Linked DNA regions of Homo sapiens: regions 2 and 3 are each linked to region 1. The links come from fine-mapping of genetic effects on gene expression. A gene starts in region 1. Each other region holds a variant in brackets. All regions are shown on one strand. Distances are between the middles of the regions. Region 1 holds the start of ANKMY2 (ankyrin repeat and MYND domain containing 2). Region 2 has its middle 8.9 kb from the start of LINC02889. Region 3 overlaps ANKMY2 (ankyrin repeat and MYND domain containing 2).

Evidence for each region.
Region 2: its variant is fine-mapped to the expression of ANKMY2 in lymphoblastoid cells (GTEx, PIP above 0.99).
Region 3: its variant is fine-mapped to the expression of ANKMY2 in whole blood (TOPMed, PIP above 0.99).

The regions. Positions count from the first base shown.
Region 1 is chr7:16,643,095-16,649,289 of GRCh38, forward strand. ANKMY2 (ankyrin repeat and MYND domain containing 2) reads right to left here and starts at 2,660. Exons shown (of 10, transcript NM_020319.3): 1 at 2,413-2,660. The coding sequence starts at 2,479. BZW2 (basic leucine zipper and W2 domains 2) reads left to right here and starts at 3,087. Exons shown (of 12, transcript NM_014038.3): 1 at 3,087-3,194. RefSeq lists enhancers at 2,787-3,066, 5,261-5,772.
Region 2 is chr7:17,564,673-17,570,867 of GRCh38, forward strand. No RefSeq gene overlaps it. Among named protein-coding and RNA genes, the nearest start is that of LINC02889, 8.9 kb to the left of the region's middle. The variant C/T (reference allele first, on the strand shown) is at 2,731.
Region 3 is chr7:16,612,634-16,618,828 of GRCh38, forward strand. ANKMY2 (ankyrin repeat and MYND domain containing 2) reads right to left here. Exons shown (of 10, transcript NM_020319.3): 5 at 3,111-3,271. It overlaps LOC105375169 (a long non-coding RNA gene), which reads left to right. Exons shown (of 5, transcript XR_007060226.1): 2 at 506-639; 3 at 3,393-3,546; 4 at 4,743-4,786. Among named protein-coding and RNA genes, the nearest start is that of ANKMY2, 30 kb to the right of the region's middle. The variant C/T (reference allele first, on the strand shown) is at 3,129.

The DNA.
Region 1 (6,195 bases):
ACTTTCATCCCCATAACAACGTTGTGAGGTGGGTATTATTATTATTCCTATTTTTCACACAGAGGACTTGAGGCTCAGGAAAAGTCACTTGCCCAAAGGCCACATCACCAGTAAATGAGTTAGAATTTCAAACCAGACCTGCATGGTTAACCACTATCCCATGCTGTCTCTCATACTGTCATAGCTTAAAATTAATTCCTAGCTCATCCAAATTAAATGCATTAATATATGTAAAGTACTTAAAATTATGTGTGGCTTGCAATAACAGTCAATAAACGTTGGCTATGGTTGTTTTTCTCATATCTCCCATTACTTTTCTTTATGAGTGCAAGTGATGTCCCACAGACCTTCATTTGACAAGAATGCATCACATACTAGGTCCACATCAGTTCTTTTCTCATTGGCATGGTCCAATGAAAGCGATGAAAGCATCAGTGCACTCATGCAACTTGATGCACCGTGTGAGCCCAGAAATATCACAGCACTAACCAGAATAAATGCACATTAATTCAGGTTTATATAATCTTCAAAATAAATACTGATGGACACCTGAGAATGTATCCAAGGAATCCCTTCTCCCCTCTCAAAGACTCAATTTATAAAACTGCTCACTATTTTTCACTTTTAAGAGATCACATGATGGGCCAGGCCCAGTGGCTCATGCCTGTAATCCCAGCACTTAGGGAGGCCGAGGCAGGAGGATCACTTGAGCCCAGGAGTTCGAGAGCAGCCTGGGCAACATAGGGAGACCCCCACCACCCCATCTCTACAAAAAAAAAAAAAAAATCTTTCTAAAGTAGCCGGGCATGGTGGCTCGCACCTGTAGTCCCAGCCACTAGGGAGGTGGAGGCTGCAGAGAGCTGCAACTCCAGCCTGGGTGAAGAGTGAGATCCTGTCTCAAACAAACGAGAGAGAGAGAGAAAGAGACAGCGAGAGCGAGAGAGAGAGAGGACATGTACTAGCTCTGTCCTGCCTAAAAGAATTTTTGTCCCTGGTGGATTGTGAATTGATCCTTTGTCTCCTTTTTGCCCAGCACAGTACCTGGCACACAGCTAGAACTTGCATGTTTGCTTAATTGAATCCCAGAGCCATCAAAGGCAGGGAGAAATTACCTAGAGACAGGAAGAACTGAAAGACTGAAATGCCAAATAGGTCAGCAAGAACCATGCAGTACAACAATCTAAACTCTAACCCAAATCCCCAAATTCCAGGCAAAGAACACATCATTGATAGATATAGCTGTGACTGACTTAGAATAGTTGAGATCAGATCGGGTGGGCTCAGCTCATCAGCACCTGTTGAGTTCAAACCGGAATTTTTTCTCCTTCGCATGTGGAGTTTCCTTGTCGCTATGAAGAATAAATCTGCCTTATTCTCTAGGATTCCACATTTCAGCCTGGCTACTAAGTAAATAAAACTGGAAACTGGGAAGCCTTATGCTGCAATGACTGGCATCTCTGCCATTCGAGGACAAACATGGCTATATTATTATTGAGTTTAAAATCACCACATTAATTGCCCGGAGTCGCACGCATCACCATCCCTGCACCGTGAGGGTGCAGAAGAAGCATGCAGTCACGCTGATGTCACCTGCCAGGTAACGGGACTCGGCAGGGAACTCCTCTGGGACGTCCACTCGGGGACTCCGGGGAAATATGGCTTCTGGCTCGTCCTCGGGGCTCCCCGCTGGGACTCAGCACTGCGGAAGTGGGGCACGCCTTGGGGGAGTGGACAAGAAAGCGCGAAGGAGCGCGATTAGAAGGTCTCATCTGTGCAACGTGGGCCGAGGGGTGGGTGTGGAGGCCTCGCCAATTTCCTTGTCTCTCTAGGGTTCCTGAGGCTGTCGGGGCTTCTGGAAGCCAGGGAGGCCCTGGATACGGAAGTCTCAATGCAGCAAATTACAGACCTAGTTCTGTACCCTTATGAAGAACCCCTCTCCCTAAGGGCGCCCTCCACTCCCAAGCGGGGGCGGGGATCGGCAAAGGATCCAGATCATTCGGCCTGCGGAAGTCTAAAGGGTCATTTAGACACCCGCCTAAGAACCTGAAACTACCAGGACTGACCGCGGTCAAAATCCCTCGGGAGCAGTGAAGAATTCACACACTGGGGTCCACACCCCGGGAAGCTCGCATTAACCTAAGGCGGGGCGTGGAAATCCGTACGTTTCCAAAAGCGGATTTAGAGGCCGAGCCTCTGTAACTACCCCTCTTGTCCCAGCACTGCTTCTGCCTCCCCACCTCTCCGCCCCTGCAACCTTTCCCAGACCAAAGGGAGAAACGCTCTTTCCCGGTTCCAGGCTGCAAACCTTGCAGAACCGCAGCCAAAGGTCACCCAGGCCAGGAGCGCCCCCCGGGCTCCGCCACGCCCCCCGGCCAGGCTGGCCGCGGCCGCGTCGCAGCCCAGCACCCGTACCTTTCCCGATGACTTCCAGTAGCTCCTTCTCCTCCTGGGTCAGCTCGCCTTTCTTTATGTGAACCATTGCTCCCGCCAGCTTGAAGGTTATTCCCTTTCTTAGGGAGTATTAAAAAAGAAACGATGCGTCTGTATTGGGAACGCCAGCCGCAATGAGGCAACTTGAGACCAAGACACTGAGTAGCCAACCGCGGAAACGCTTCGCTTCTCTCCTCCCTCCCGCGGGCTGGCGGACAGCGGGCGAGCTCGGGCGAGCCAGGCGGACGGTCTCCGCAGGCCCTGCGGCGGTCACCGCCTGCCGCCTGTCATTGGCCCTGCCGAGGAGGAGGAGCCGCAGGAGGCGGTAGCGAGAGATCGCCATTGGAGCAACCTGGGAGGACAAAACCAAATGCAGAAAGCTGGAGGGGGGAATTAAATTCCTCCTACACGTTCCGCTCCCCTATCCTGTCCGGTTCAAATATTTCGCCACATGTAATATTGAAAATTCTACAGCTGGCAGTTATGTGCTCAGCGACGGCTTTCTGGGGCATGCAGAGGCCCCAGGTTGTCGCCGTACCCCCACCATTCCCCCGGGAGTGGCGCAGTCTGGGCGGGGGCGGTCTAGGAGACGGGGGCGGTACGGGAGGCGGGGCTGCGCCGGGTTCCGTGTGTCTATGTCAATGTGTCTGTCCTTCACTCCTCCATTGTCTGCCGCCACTGCTGCTGCTGCTGCTGCTGCCGCTGCTGCTGCACGAATCGCCGCAGCCCCCAGCCTTGCGCGTCGTCGCTACCTCCTCGGACAGGTGAGAAGCAGCCCAGGTGAGGCAAGGGGCGCCGTGAGGGTTGCGAGAGTAGCGACTGCCGCCCCGCCGGGGTTTCCATCGGGCAGGAGCTGGCGGGGAGGAAGCATGTGCCTCCTGGGGCGGCTTCCTGCCTCGCGGTGGAGAAGCCCCCGCTCCACCTCATCATCACGGCGCGTACGGGGTATCAGTGCCCTGGGATGAAGACCTCCGACTCGCAACGTTTGGCCGCCTCGGGAGACCCTGGGACCGCGGGCGGGCGGGCGGGGGCCAGCCACGCGGTGGGAAGTGGCGGGTGCACATGGTCTCGTGCGTGGCACCGCCAGATGCGGCTCCCGGGGAGGCTGGGGCCGGGGCTCTGGGCTAGGTAGGGGTCGCAAGGACAGCGCCCCATTACTAGCGAGTCAGTGAGAACAGACTCGGGAGAAGGTAGTTTTTACGCTGGTGATCCTCGCCCTCCCCACTACTTGTCATCTCTTTGGCCTCTGTGGAAGCTGTAGAAGAAAACCTGATCGCCCAATGTTGCTTGTTAAAGATGTTTGGAAACAATTTACACTTGCACTAATACTTCGTTTATGAGAGACAGCCTGTGGGAGGGGGAAGGAAGGGCTTCTTTGCTCTGCTAGAGTTCTCGGTTCTCTTTGTAACTCAGATCTTGAGATTTATGGAAATAGGGAGTGGAGGGTGGGGAGGTTGGAGAGGGCGGAGATTAAATTGGTGTTGCTGCCTATATATAGCCTTAGATTAGCCTCTTAATCCAACCTTCATTCAACTGTAATATGTAGCCTGGAGCTTCGACCATAGGTAGATGGGGGTAAATACAAGTGTGTATTTCAGAATAAGATTTGCTTGCTAAAATGCGGGAATCAGTCATTTCTCCAGGGTGCAGATTTATATTTACATCATCAATGAAAGTTTCTTTGGAAATTAGTGTTTATGTTTTACTGTTGTTTCCCTACAGAGTAGTATTGATGTTTCTCTCAATATGTGTGTCAAAGAGACGTGTATGTGTCAAAGAGAAATATTTGAGTAATTATGTAGGTGGTTTTTGTTAAGCATCCCCAGGACCACTGTTTCTTCTCATAGCGCCATACGAAAAGCGAAATGCATTTTCCTCTGGCCTTAGGCATTTATTTTGCGTGAAGCTTTCACTAACATCTGAAATCTCCTGGAATATGTTTATCATTATTTCCTGCCTTTAGCAAAAATCTTTCCTAAACTCCAGCTGTTTTTCCCCCCTAAAGCTTCAGCATTAAAGACTGGGACAGATCTGAGCCAGAACATCTTACATGAAAATGGTTTGAAATTATTCATCTCAGTGTATAACAAAGATACTTTTGTTGGATGATGCTTTAATAATGATGTGGCTGTTCAAGCAAGTAGTAAGGCTCCTGAGAGTGACCAATCTTTTGTAATGCTGTTAGTTCAGAGTTACAATTGATTTATAACATAGTATCATGCGGAAGAAACCCACAAACCTAAAAAAACAGTTGAGTGGTAACCTCCTGGAACATGTGATTTAGCATCTTACCAGCAGATGCATACACATAATTGGGTACTTCATTGCTAGTATTTCCATCTCTTGTGCCAAATCTGGGCCATGGTTACTTGAAGGTCACACCTGTTTGTCTCACTGGGGTTGTCAGTTCCTCGAGGATAGCAGCTTACTATCTATTTTCTTGATGCCTTATGACACTTGGTTGGTATTTAGTGCTCTCTGAATACATGACCAGTGAATTTAGAGACAATAACGTTGAAAGAGAATCTAACATCTACCTAGAAATGCAAATAAATCATGTTCAGTTTACATTTCTAGAAACAGATTCATAATGGGTACTGTTCATTAGATGGATTGATTACATTAGTAGTTTTGTATGGTGTAAATATTTAATGTAGGGATAAGATTAGATAATGAGCATATTAAAACAGATTCACATCAAAGAAGTTTTATTGATAATAAGATAGCTACTTCATATTGAGTATTTAGTCTGTGCTAGATATTCTACCAGATGCTTTGCATAGAATTATTCTAGTGTTATGACAACCCAGGAATGAGCCAATATTATACCCACTTTGCAAATAAGAGGACAGAAAGTAAGGGAAATAATTTGCCCACAATCCCATATTAGGAAGTGTCAAGTCAGAATTGGAATAATGATTTCTGAAATGTTTGAAATGTTGTATGTGTCCTCTCATATCTACCACTCTAGAGCTATTGCAATGCATCTTAAGTAGCCTGCTTCTCTCTCACCTGTCTCCATCTAGCTAATTCAGGGAACTACCAGTTCAATAAACATTGAGCACCCATCATTCTTTGAATGGCTCTCTGCTGGCCACAGAATAGAGGGCTGGGTCTGGCCTGGAAGGTTCCAATCCATCCATGGTCTCAGCAGGCATTTCCAGTCATCTGGGCCCTCCCACACACTGGGCTCTAAGGTCACCACTCTGCTTGTTCCCCAACCTGCCGGTAATTTCCACCCCTTTGTTCCTGCTTTTCTCCTCCTCTGAATGATTTCCCTTCCCTTTTCACTGAATCTCCTCTCCAGATCTGATGAACTATTCAACTTTCCAGACACAATTTAAACAAAACCTCTTTTCTTCAGCTTTTGTGTTCATCTCTCCCTCTCTATCCAGTAAGGGAAATATACATGCTAGTAAATACATTTATTCATGTCTCTTGGCAAGGGTTATAAGTAAAATCTTTGTACATGGAGGATATTGATATGCAACATGGCTACTGGTATCATTGCTGGCAGCCTTTAATTCTCTCTTCTTATGGATTCTAGCGACCCCTCTTTTACCGCCCCCCTAAATTGACATCATTGCTTCTTCATCTGAATCTCCATGAAAATACCTAAAACAAGCACTTTCTCATCGCATTCTATTATAGTTATTATTAATCTGTTTGGTCCCTTCTCATTCTACAGTATACATTAACTAGGTCAAATTTATCTTTGTTTCTCAGGTTTAACCCAGTGTCTTGCACCTAGTGTATGCTCAGTAC
Region 2 (6,195 bases), 920 kb after region 1:
ACTACCTCCAACTACCTTAGTTATGGCCATATAAACAGACTCTTTCCCTCTCCCTCTCAAATATATGTGAATATATGTGTATATATGCATATTTACATAGCCAAATAATATATACTCAACTTTCTGAATAATTCCATCCACTTGAAACCTAGTTTTAAATGTGTAGGAAAGCAATTAATATGAGCAATAGAGTACAGATTGCACAAGAGATGCTTCTAATATACTTTATTTCCACGACTAGACAAATGCCTTTGCATATGTTTTAAGAATAATAAACTGACCACATATCCTTTCCAACTTAACGATTTATGAGGAAGTTGGTTTCAAATAAACCAAAACAGTGCTACCCACAGAAATAGCAGAGAGTAAGGATCTCTTAAAAGGGGCTTCTTCCTCACCACTGTGACTCATCAGAAGCCCGGATTTGAAGAATGCATTTGCCTTCAAAACCTGAAGGCTATTCTAATCCTGACTCCTTGTACAGACCTGGAAATTTACCTAAATTGTTAATGCCCTGGCTACCAAATTGACACAATAGTAATTTCCTCCTGTTTATCTCATAAGATGTTGAGGAAGTTACCAAGAAATTTTAAAGTACTATACATATCAGTGCTATTAAAACATTTTTTATTTCATACACTCCACAAATACCCAGTTACCAATTTAAATATAACAAGTAGTCCTCTACATAACAGGGTACTATCAGCCAGACAATAAAATAACTAGCTTATTTTAGAGCACATAAAACATCTCATCCTTATATTTTTACTTGGATGAAACACAAGGTTATTAGCCTTAGTATTTTGTTTAATCAAAAGTCATTTAACCAAGTAACAATCTGATGGACAAAGAGCCAAGCAGTAAAATTATAAATTTCCTTAAAGTTCTGGAAAAATATTCTACAGTTTCAATATGTTATATAATATGTTTAAACTATTCTAAAAAATGTACCCAGAGTCTCAATCTGTCCAGTCTGCATTAATCCACAAGAAAACAATAAGACTATGGTATATGACAGTTTATCCATAAAAAAACCACAAAGATATCTGCATAAAATATTTTTAAAACATCATATTCTAAAAAACATACAAATACAAACCATTTTTAGACATGTGCTTATGAAAAGTATTACAATCATGAGCATTTTCATGGTGCTCAGAAAGATAAGATTTAAGTGGTATGGTTATAACCAATTAATTGGAAAAACAGAAAAGCCAAAGAGATCACTTATAAAAGCAATTTTCTAGTATGTCCTGTGTTGAGAAAGGAAATGTATACTACCTACTTTCTAGGAGTCTATAATTAATATTACTTAATCTACTTTACTATCAATGTCATAAAAAGGCAAAGTATAGTTTTATTTTTCTTTTTTTATTATACTTTAAGTTCTAGGGTACATGTGCACAATGTGCAGGTTTGTTACATATGTATACAGGTGCTATGTTGGTGTGCTACACCCATTAACTCGTCATTTACATTAGTTATATCTCCTAATGCTATCCCTCCCCACTCCCCTCACCCAACAACAAGCCCCGGTGTGTGATGTTCCCCGCCCTGTGTCCAAGTGTTCTCATTGTTCAGTTCCCACCTATGAGTGAGAACATATGGTGTTTGGTTTTTTGTCCTTGAGATAGTTTGCTCAGAATGATGGTTTCCAGCTTCATCCATGTCCCTACAAAGGACATGAACTCATCCTTTTTTATGGCTGCATAGTATTCCATGGTGTATATGTGCCTCATTTTCTTAATCCAGTCTATCATTGATGGACATTTGGGTTGGTTCCAAGTCTTTGCTATTGTGAATAGTGCCGCAATAAACATACGTGTGCATGTGTCTTTATAGCAGCATGATTTACAATCCTTTGGGTATATACCCAGTAATGGGATGGCTGGGTCAAATGGTATTTCTAATTCTAGATCCTTGAGGAATCACCACACTGACTTCCACAATGGTTGAACTAGTTTACAGTCCCACCAACAGTGTAAAAGTGTTCCTATTTCTCCACATCCTCTCCAGCATCTGTTGTTTCCTGGCTTTTTAATGATTGCCATTCTAACTGGTGTGAGATGGTATCTCATTGTGGTTTTGATTTGCATTTCTCCGATGGCCAGTGATGATGAGCATTTTTTCATGTGTCTGTTGGCTGCATCAATGTCTTCTTTTGAGAAGTGTCTGTTCACACCCTTTGCCCACACGTTGATGAGTTGTTTTTTTCTTGTAAATTTGTTTGAGTTCTTTGTAAATTCTGGATATTAGCCCTTTGTCAGATGAGTAGACTGCAAATTTTTTCTCCCATTCTGTAGGTTGCCTGTTCACTCTAATGGTAGTTTCTTTTGCTGTGCAGAAGCTCTTTAGTTTAATTAGATCCCATTTATCAATTTTGGCTTTTGTTGCCATTGCTTTTGGTGTTTTCGACATGAAGTCCTTGCCCATGCCTATGTCCTGAATGGTATTGCCTAGGTTTTCTTCTAGGATTTTCATGGTTTTAGGTCTAACATGTAAGTATTTAATCCATCTGGAATTAATTTTTGCATAAGGTATAAGAAAAGGGTCCAGTTTCAGCTTTCTACATATGGCTAGCCAGTTTTCCCAGCACCATTTATTAAATAGGGAATCCTTTCCCCATTTCTTGTTTTTGTCAGGTTTGTCAAAGATCAGATGGTTGTAGATGTGTGGTATTATTTCTGAGGGCTCTGTTGTGTTCCATTGATCTATATCTCTGTTTTGGTA[C/T]CAGTACCATGCTGTTTTGGTTACTGTAGCCTTGTAGTATAGTTTGAAGTCAGGTAGCGTGATGCCTCCAGCTTTGTTCTTTTGGCTTAGGATTGACTTGGCAATGTGGGCTCTTTTTTGATTCCATATGAACTGTAAAGTAATTTTTTCCAATCCTGTGAAGAGAGTCATTGGTAGCTTGATGGGGATGGCATTGAATCTATAAATTACCTTGGGCAGTATGGCCATTTTCACGATATTCCATTCCGTATGATATTGGCTGTGGGTCTGTCATAAATAGCTCTTATGATTTTGAGATACGTCCCATCAATACCTAATTTATGAAGAGTTTTTAGCATGTAGGCCTGCTGAATTTTGTCAAAGGACTTTTCTGCATCTATTGAGATAATCATGTGGTTTTTGTCTTTGGTTCTGTTTATATGCTGCATTATGTTTCTTAATTTGCATCTGTTGAACCAGCCTTGCATCCCAGGGATGAAGCCCACTTGATCATGATGGATAAGCTTTTTGATGTGCTGCTGGATTCAGTTTGCCAGTATTTTATTGAGGATTTTTGCATCAATGTTCATCATGGATATTGGTCTAAAATTCTCTTTTTTTTGTTGTGTCTCTGCCCGGCTTTGGTATCAGGATGATGCTAGCCTCATAAAATGAGTTAGGGAGGATTCCCTCTTTTTCTATTGATTGGAATAGTTTCAGAAGGAATGGTATCAGCTCCTCCTTGTACCTCTGGTACAATTCGGCTGTGAATTCGTATGGTCCTGGATTTTTTTTGGTTGGTAGGCTATTAATTATTGCCTCAATTTCAGAGCCTGTTATTGGTCTATTCAGAGATTCAACTTCTTCCTGGTTTAGACTTGGGAAGGTGTATGTGTCGAGGAATTTATCCATTTCTTCTAGATTTTCTAGTTTATTTGCGCAGAGGTGTTTATAGTATTCTCTGATGGTAGTTTGTATTTCTGTGGGATCAGTGGTGATATCCCCTTTATCATTTTTTATTGCATCTATTTGATTCGTCTCTCTTTTCTTCTTTATTAGTCTTGCTAGCAGTCTACCAATTTTGTTGATTTTTTCAAAAAACCAGCTCCTGGACTCATTGATTTTTTTGAAGGGTTTTTTGTGTCTCTGTCGCCTTCATTTCTGCTCTGGTCTTAGTTATTTCTTGGCTTCTGCTAGCTTTTGAATGTGTTTGCTCTTGCTTCTCTAGTTCTTTTAATTGTGATGTTAGGGTGTCAACTTTAGGTCTTTCCTGCTTTCTCTTGTGGGCATTTAGTGCTATAAATTTCCCTCTACACACTGCTTTGAATGTGTCCCGGAGACTCTGGTATGTTGTGTCTTTGTTCTCACTGGTTTCAAAGAACATCTTTATTTCTGCCTTCATTTTGTTACGTACCCAGCAGTCATTCAGGAGCAGGTTGTTCAGTTTCCATGTAGTTGAGCGGTTTTGAGTGAGTTTCTTAATCCTGAGTTCTAGTTTGATTGCACTGTGGTCTGAGAGAGAATTTGTTATAATTTCTGTTCTTTTACATTTGCTGAGGAGTGCTTTACTTCCAACTATGTGGTCAATTTCGGAATAAGTGCTATGTGGTGCTAAGAATATATATTCTTTTGATTTGGGGTGGAGAGTTCTGTAGATGTCTATTAGGTCCACTTGGTGTGGAGCTGAGTTCAAGTCCTGGATATCCTTGTTAACGTTCTGTCTTGTTGATCTGTCTAATGTTGACAGTGGGGTGTTAAAGTCTCCCATTATTATTGAGTGGGAGTCTAAGTCTCTTTGTAGGTCTCTAGGGGCTTGCTTTATGAATCTGGGTGCTCCTGTATTGGGTGCATATATATTTAGGATAGGTAGCTCTTCTTGTTGAATTGATCCCTTTACCATTATGTAATGGCCTTCTTTGTCTCTTTTAATCTTTGTTGGTTTAAAGACTGTTTTATCAGAGACTAGGATTGTAACCCCTGCCTTTTTTTGTTTTGCACTTGCTTGGTAGATCTTCCTCCATCCCTTTATTTTGAGCCTATGTGTGTCTCTGCATGTGAGATGGGTCTCCTGAATACAGCACACTGATGGGTCTTGACTCTTTATCCAATTTGCCAGTCTGTGTCTTTTAATTGGAGCATTTAGCCCATTTACATTTAAAGGTAATATTGTTACTTGTGAATTTGATCCTGTCATTATGATGTTAACTGGTTACTTTGCTCATTAGTGATGCAGTTTCTTCCTAGCATCGATGGTCTTTACAATTTGGCATGTTTTTGCAGTGGCTGGTACTGGTTGTTCCTTTCCATGTTTAGTGCTTCCTTCAGGAGCTCTTTTAGGGCAGGCCTGGTGGTGACAAAATCTCTCAGCATTTGCTTGTCTGTAAAGTATTTTATTTCTCCTTCACTTATGAAGCTTACTTTGGCTGGATATGAAATTCTGGGTTGAAAATTCTGTTCTTTAAGAATGTTGAATATTGGCCCCCACTCTCTTCTGGCTTGTAGAGTTTCTGCCAAGAGATCCGCTGTTAGTCTGATGGGCTTCCCTTTGTGAGTATCCCAACCTTTCTCTCTGGCTGCCCTTAACATTTTTTCCTTCATTTCAACTTTGGTGAATCTGACAATTATGTGTCTTGGAGTTGCTCTTCTTGAGGAGTATCTTTGTTGCATTCTCTGTATTTCTTGAATTTGAATGTTGGCCTGCCTTGCTAAGTTGGGGAAGTTCTCCTGCATAATATCCTGCAGAGTGTTTTCCAACTTGGTTCCATTCTCCCTGTCACTTTCAGGTATACTAATCAGATGTAGATTTGGTCTTTTCACACAGTCCCATATTTCTTGGAGTCTTTATTGCTTCTTACTCTTTTTTCTCTAAACTTCTCTTCTTGCTTCATTTCATTCATTTGATCTTCAGTCACTGATACTCTTTCTTCCAGTTGATCAAATCGGCTACTGAAGCTTGTGCATTCGTCACGTAGTTCTTGTGCCATGGTTTTCAACTCCATCAGGGTTTCAACTGCATCAGGTCATTCTCTACACTGGTTATTCTAGTTAGCCATTCGTCTAATCTTTTTTCAAGGTTTTTAGCTTCTTTGCAATGGGTTCAAACTTCCTCCTTTAGCCTGGAGAAGTTTGATCGTCTGAAGACTTCTTCTCTCAACTCGCCAAAGTCATTCTCCATCCATCTTTGTTCTGTTGCTGGTGAGGAGCTGCGTTCCTTTGGAGGGGGAGAGGCACTCTGATTTTTAGAATTTTCAGCTTTTCTGCTCTATTTTTTTCCCCAACTTTGTGGTTTTATCTACCTTTCGTCTTTGATGATAGTGACGTACAGATGGGGTTTTGGTGTGGTTGTCCTTTCTGTTTGTTAGTTTTCCTTCTAACAATCAGGACCCTCAGCTGCAGGTCTGTTGGAGTTTGCTAGAGGTCCACTCCAGACCCTATTTGCCTGGGTATCAGCAGTGGAGGCTGCCGAACAGCAGGTATTGCTAAACA
Region 3 (6,195 bases), 30 kb before region 1:
GAGCCCAGATTAATAATTTTTTGTTTGGAGACATCAGACCTTATCTATGTTTTAATACACAGCACAAATATACACCAAGAAAAATGACAAATAACCACATCATTAACATGCGCTTATTGAAACAACTACATAGCTGCACACAAAAGAATAATATTTGTACTTGTTTCCTTCCTTAATCTCTGCAGCATTATGAAGTAATATATTATAAAGGAAATCCTTTTTATTAATTAATGAGGAGGAGCAAATAAATATATTTCTATTGGCATTAAAAACTAGATAAATTTTTACCATTCAAAGGATTGCTACCTGAGAATATGTTTATGTAGTGGCATTTTGAATTCTTTTTATTTTTTAAATCCTATTTTTAAAAACTGCTAAATCTACAATACTGGGCTTGAAAATCACAATAATCAAAGACATGATTGTTCTGTGCACATCTGCCTCCTGTACACTTAGAGACCCTGCTCTGCTGACATTTTTTTCTGTGATTTTGTTTTTCTCCTAGATAACCTTCATATTCTGGGCATCAGCACAATCCTCCAAATCCCTTTTGAAAACAAATGCATCCTTATTGCTACGGCAGCCACTTAATCTAGACACAAATACAGCTATATTAGGTGCACTGTAATGAAAAGTGAGGTGTGTATTGGGGAGAATTTCCGAGGTTGTTTTAAAAGCTGTTTAACATTACACAGTGGTTATTAGTTTTTAAATAATACTCCATAGGAAATGCCATGCTAGCTTAAAAAGGGGGTAGAGCAATAAAAATGGGCCACAGTAACAAAAGCAACTGGGTGGCTTTTAGATCCCAAGGGTGGATAAAAGAAAAGGTTTCGAGCGAATAGATTGTTTATACCTACAAAAAGCAAGGTCTGGTCTGGAGGAAGGTATATAATAGGATAGCCCCCTTCATACTCCAAAAAATATTATGTAGTCTATTTCAGACTATATACCTTTACAAATTATTGTCTGCATAATTATGCCCTCAATCTAATTTACTTAAAATATATACCTTCAAAGATAACTGAAGGTAGAGTATTAATAATTATTAGGACATTTAACCCTGAAAGACTGGGTTCCAAGTAAACATAAAAAATTATTCCATAAGCCTGGCCAACATGGAGAAACCCCATCTCTACCCAAAATACAAAAATTAGCCAGGCGTGGTGGTGGGCACCTGTAATCCCAGCTACTCAGGAGGCTGAGGCAGGAGAATCGCTTTAACCTGGAAGGCCGAGATCTGTACCACTGCACTCCAGGCTGGGCGACAGAGCAAGACCCTATCTCAAAAAAAAAAAAAAAAAAAATTCCACAAACCCTTACTGCAATCTGAAGAGGCAGAAACATAGATATGAAAGACAGTGAATCAGAAAAGTACAGGGAACTTCTTCAAGTCAGTCTAAGCCAGAATATCCTGTATTGCTCAGGCAGTGGAGGAACAAGAGTCTTACAGAACCACACACATTCTCTACATTGAGAAATACTGTACCCTGACAGAAACCTGTCTCCCCATCCCAGCCAGCCCATGCCTGAGAGAGTGCCATGGACAGAGGTCAATGCTTCTCTTGGGAGTTCTCTTTTCCCTAGGTATGCTGGGAGGGAGAGAAACAGTAACACAGAAGAAAATACATATTTTTTAAAGGTTAAATTCTAAGCCCTCTGTAATCTCCACTAGAAACATGAGTATGCAGTTCACAACTGAATTTGCCCACTTAGTATCACAAGTGTTGCCTCTGGCAGTTCTTCCAGAATATTAAGAAAAACTCTGAGTTTTCTAAAATAAAAATAGCAGATTCCACTCTTCTGTCTGATGGGAAAGGTATCTACTAGTTTGTCATCTCTCTTAAGGGCCTAGAAAATTAATTTGGGTGGAGGAACACACAATGAGTAAATTTGGTTTGTTTCTCAACCTTCAAGTACTCAAGAAAGATGCACAGGGATGCATCAACAAAGTAATAAGATTATACACATTTTGGATCTTATATCTTTGAGTGAGTGTCAGTCTTCAGAAGAGTCACCTTATAAGAACTGTCCACTCATTTTCATGATGCTCAGCAGACTCCACAGATTCTTCTTTCGTAATAAACTTCTGGGGAAATCTATTTTACTACATGATAGTAACGCCTTATGTTAAGGAAGAACCTTAACTTTTGACACAACTTAGTATCTTGCTCACTTAAACAGCTCTGAACTACTATCAAATCTTTATGAGTAAAAGCATGTGATAGATACTGAAATTGAAATAGGACCTCATCACTGTAGCACACATGTAGCTGTGTAGTTTTCTGTGATGATTATTGAGGAAATTATACTTGTTTAGCTGGATTTTTTTGAAAAAATTATGTGTAAACAACAACAGCAAAAGCCTGTATTTTTAAAATCTGGAAGACAATAGCAGTGAAATATTTCAGAATAGCTCTTGAAGTTTCCCAGTTAAGCCATTTGAACTTATGTGTTGGCCTATGAAATTTGAAAATCTGATTTGATGAATTACTGGAAGAACTATGTTATTTAAAGGCATCAAATAGCCACTTAGTTTAAAAATGTGCTCATGATTACATTTCAGAATCTTTCTTAGAAAGACAATTATTGTAATAGATGCTGTTAGTGCCCCCACATACATCCTTTTTACCAGGCCTGTATACCAGGCCCCCGGGGCTCTCAGGGTCAGCTACTATGGTCTTTTCTCCAGAGGACTACCCTCATTGAAAGGGAGCCACCTCACTTGGTACTATGTGGGAGGCTGTCCTTTCCCTCTGGAGACAGGCCCCACCCAACAACAGACTGATGAATACAAAAGAATTCCTTTGCCTCTCTGGAGCCACTCACACTCCAGAGCTCCCGGTGGGATGAGGTGGAAGCTAGGCTTCAGCAAACCCATCTCTTTGCGTGGCTTTTCCTGATGGTTTAGTCTGTTTCTCTCTCGCTCACTCACTTCCAGGTTTCAACGGAGAGTGTTCCTTCAATAAATTAACAGGCCAAAAGAGCCCACTGCAAGCTCTACAACTACAAAACCCACCCCAAGACAATTATGATCCTGTATAATAAAAGCAGTTTAAACTCTGAAGCAATATTTACATAAAAAGCAAATACGGTAGACACCACACTACCTTGACAGGATGAAGATT[C/T]GTTGTGGTGATAATTTTGTGCAGCGGGCCTGCCAACTTTGGGGGCAGTTTTGGCTCTTTATCCAGTCCCTGGGGCTTAGTGTAATAATCCAGTCTCTCTCGAGGAAAGAAATTGTTGATTATGGTCACACAATCATGTTGACCTTTTCATAGAAAAATAGAAAAGTTGTAGTTTTAGTATTAAAAATAACACATCTGGTTTTTAAAATTAATTATGTTGCTATTTTTGTGATGTAAACATGCACCAATATCTTTATTTTTCAGGAAAGGAGAGTAGAGGAGGAGGAGGAGAGATAAAATATTTTAGAGAACATTTATAAACATTCCTTGTAAAGTTGATAAACAATCTTTGAAAGACACAGAATCCAAAATACATACGAAGATTATGTGGATTACAAAAGAAAGCACTGCTCAACTTGTAAGAGACCTTAAGTATTTTCTAACAGTTGCTTGTAAGTTAAATGTCTCTTCTTCCCAGCCTACGCAAATGATGCTCATGTTTCCCTAATCACATCCAGTTGTATTTACACAAAATTTAAATTTACTCCATATAAAGTATTGTTCTTACTATAATGATAATATTAAACTAAACCCCCTCCCCCTTATCCCCTACCCCCTAAATTTGAGAAAAGCTTGCCCTCTTTGTGAAATGTAGAGAAAAGGCTTTCGCTCCCATAAGCTTGGAATCCACATCGTGGCTTTGCATAGAATTCCAAGCCACTTCTCTAAGCCATCTCTAGTTAAAAATGGTTCTATGAAAGCAAATTCTTCCCTAGCGAAGCTGCTGGTTTGCAAGTGTGCTCCTGCGGCGCCCCCCCCTCCCTAGCTCCCTCTCCACTACCTCTCTGGAGCAAAGCAGTGGCCACTCTGGGCAAGCAGGCAGAAGCCACAGGGCACACAGGAGGGCGGGCGCAGGCTCTTCCTGGATCTCCGGAGGAGACTTCTTCCTCCGCTCTGCCTGATGAGGGCTGGGGGACCAGCGGAGGCGCGCCTGGGGAGAGCGTGCAGACGCCATGGCCCCCGCTCCCGGAGAGTGGTTCCCCCTGGGTAGCCTGCATGGCCCCTGCCTGCTTGTGCTTGGTCCTGGGAGCGCCTGCTTGATCCTGCCGACAACAGGTGACCTGCGTGGGGATGGCACTGTGGGCCAGCTGGACGCTGGCGCTTGAGGCTGGCAGAGGGCTCTGCTTGTCCCTGAAAGTTCCTGGGAGAACCCAGGAGTGGCAGGCTTCATCCTTGTGCCTCAGCTGGTTTGCTGACCAAACCAGCTTAATGTCTCAATTAAATGGTTGAATACTTTTGATGAGACATTTTAGAACTTTTTTTTTTTATGGGAACACCTATCTTTTTATTGAAGCTCGATGTAGATTTTGTTTTAAGGAAGCATATGCAGTTTGTCTTCATCTTCCCTGGTTTCTTCATACACATTTCTAAATTTCCCCACAGTTACCTGTGTTGATTTTGATGCTGTATTCATAACCCACTTGCATTAGATTTGCTTGGTTGAATGTCATTTTTCTCTCTTCTTGAAGATTCTATAAGGAGAGTGATAATTTTCTAAAGTAATTAATTAATGTCTTAATTGAGACATTAAATTTTCTTCTTCCACTGATCCAGGACCCTATCAGCTTTACCTGACTTCCTGGGAGGTACAGAACAAGGTACGTATGGGGATCCAGCAATTCTGAAGACTACGCCATGCCTCCAACAGAGGGCTTCTTGGGTTGAAAGTGTGTGGGTAACATTTACCATAACAATAACTACCACAACTACAGCTAATAAATGCACTTAAGCAGATTCAATTATAATATATAAATAGACTTTCAAGAGCCGCAGAGAGATTCAAATTTTAAAAATTAACAGGCAAACTGAAAGAGGTGATCCTGGTTACTATTGAGAACTAAACTAGTAACACAGAGGATGAAGGGCAGGCATGGTGGCTCATGCCTATAATCCCAGCACTTTGGGAGGCTGAGGCAGGAGGATTGCTTAAGCCCAGGAGGTGCAGACCAGCCTGGGTAACACAGCACAAACCCGTTTCTACAAATAATTTAAAAAATTAGCTGGATACAGTGGTATGTGCCTGTAGTCCCAGCTACTTGGGATACTAAGGCAGGAGGATTGCTTGGGGCCAGGAGTTGGAGGCTACAGTGAGCGTGTTTTTTTTTTTTTTTTTTTTTTTTGGGTGAGACAGAGTCTGGCTCTGTTGCCCAGGCTGTAGTGCAGTCACGTGATCTTGGCTCACTGCAACCTCTGCCTCCTGGATTCAAGCAATTCTCCTGACTCAGCTTCCCAAGTAGCTGAGACTACAGGTGTGTGCCACCACACCTGGCTAATCTATTTTGTATTTTCAGATGGGGTTTCACTATGTTTGCCAGGCTGGTCTCAAACTCCTGACCTCAGGTGATCTGCCTGCCTTAGCCTCCCAAAGTGCTGGGATTACAGGCGTGAGCCACCATGCCCAGCCAAAGCTGCAGTGAGTTTTGATCACACCACTGCATTCAAGCCTGGGTAACAGACACCCTGTTTCAACAAAACAAACAAAAAAGATCGAGTGGATGAAATATCTCAAAACAGAAAAATTCAGATATAGAAATCATTATACAACAGATGAAAGAGCTAAAGAACAAATCCAGGAAATCTAATAGTGAAAATTAACAGACATCTCAAAGGAAAAAAAGGAATAGATGGAGAATTAAACAAATGATAAAAGAAAACTTCCCTGATTTGAAAAGAGAATTTAATAGTGATCACAATACCATTTTTGGTACTCTATGCTTTTATTAAGTACCAGAACACCCAATTTCTTTCTTTTTGGGGGGATTCGGGGAGGTGGGTATTTCTTTTATTTCTTTCCCCAGTACATACGTCTTGAAAAGTCAAACAGTAGCAGTCTATATTAAAAATGTGAAATGAGCCAAGGTGCTCTGTTTAGAAAATGATCACCTCTCCTTCCAGAATCTTCAAGAGAGAAAAATGACATTCAACCAAGCAAATCTAATGCAAGTGGGTTATGAACACAGTTATCAAAATCAACCCAAGTAATTGTGAGGAAATTTACAACTGTATG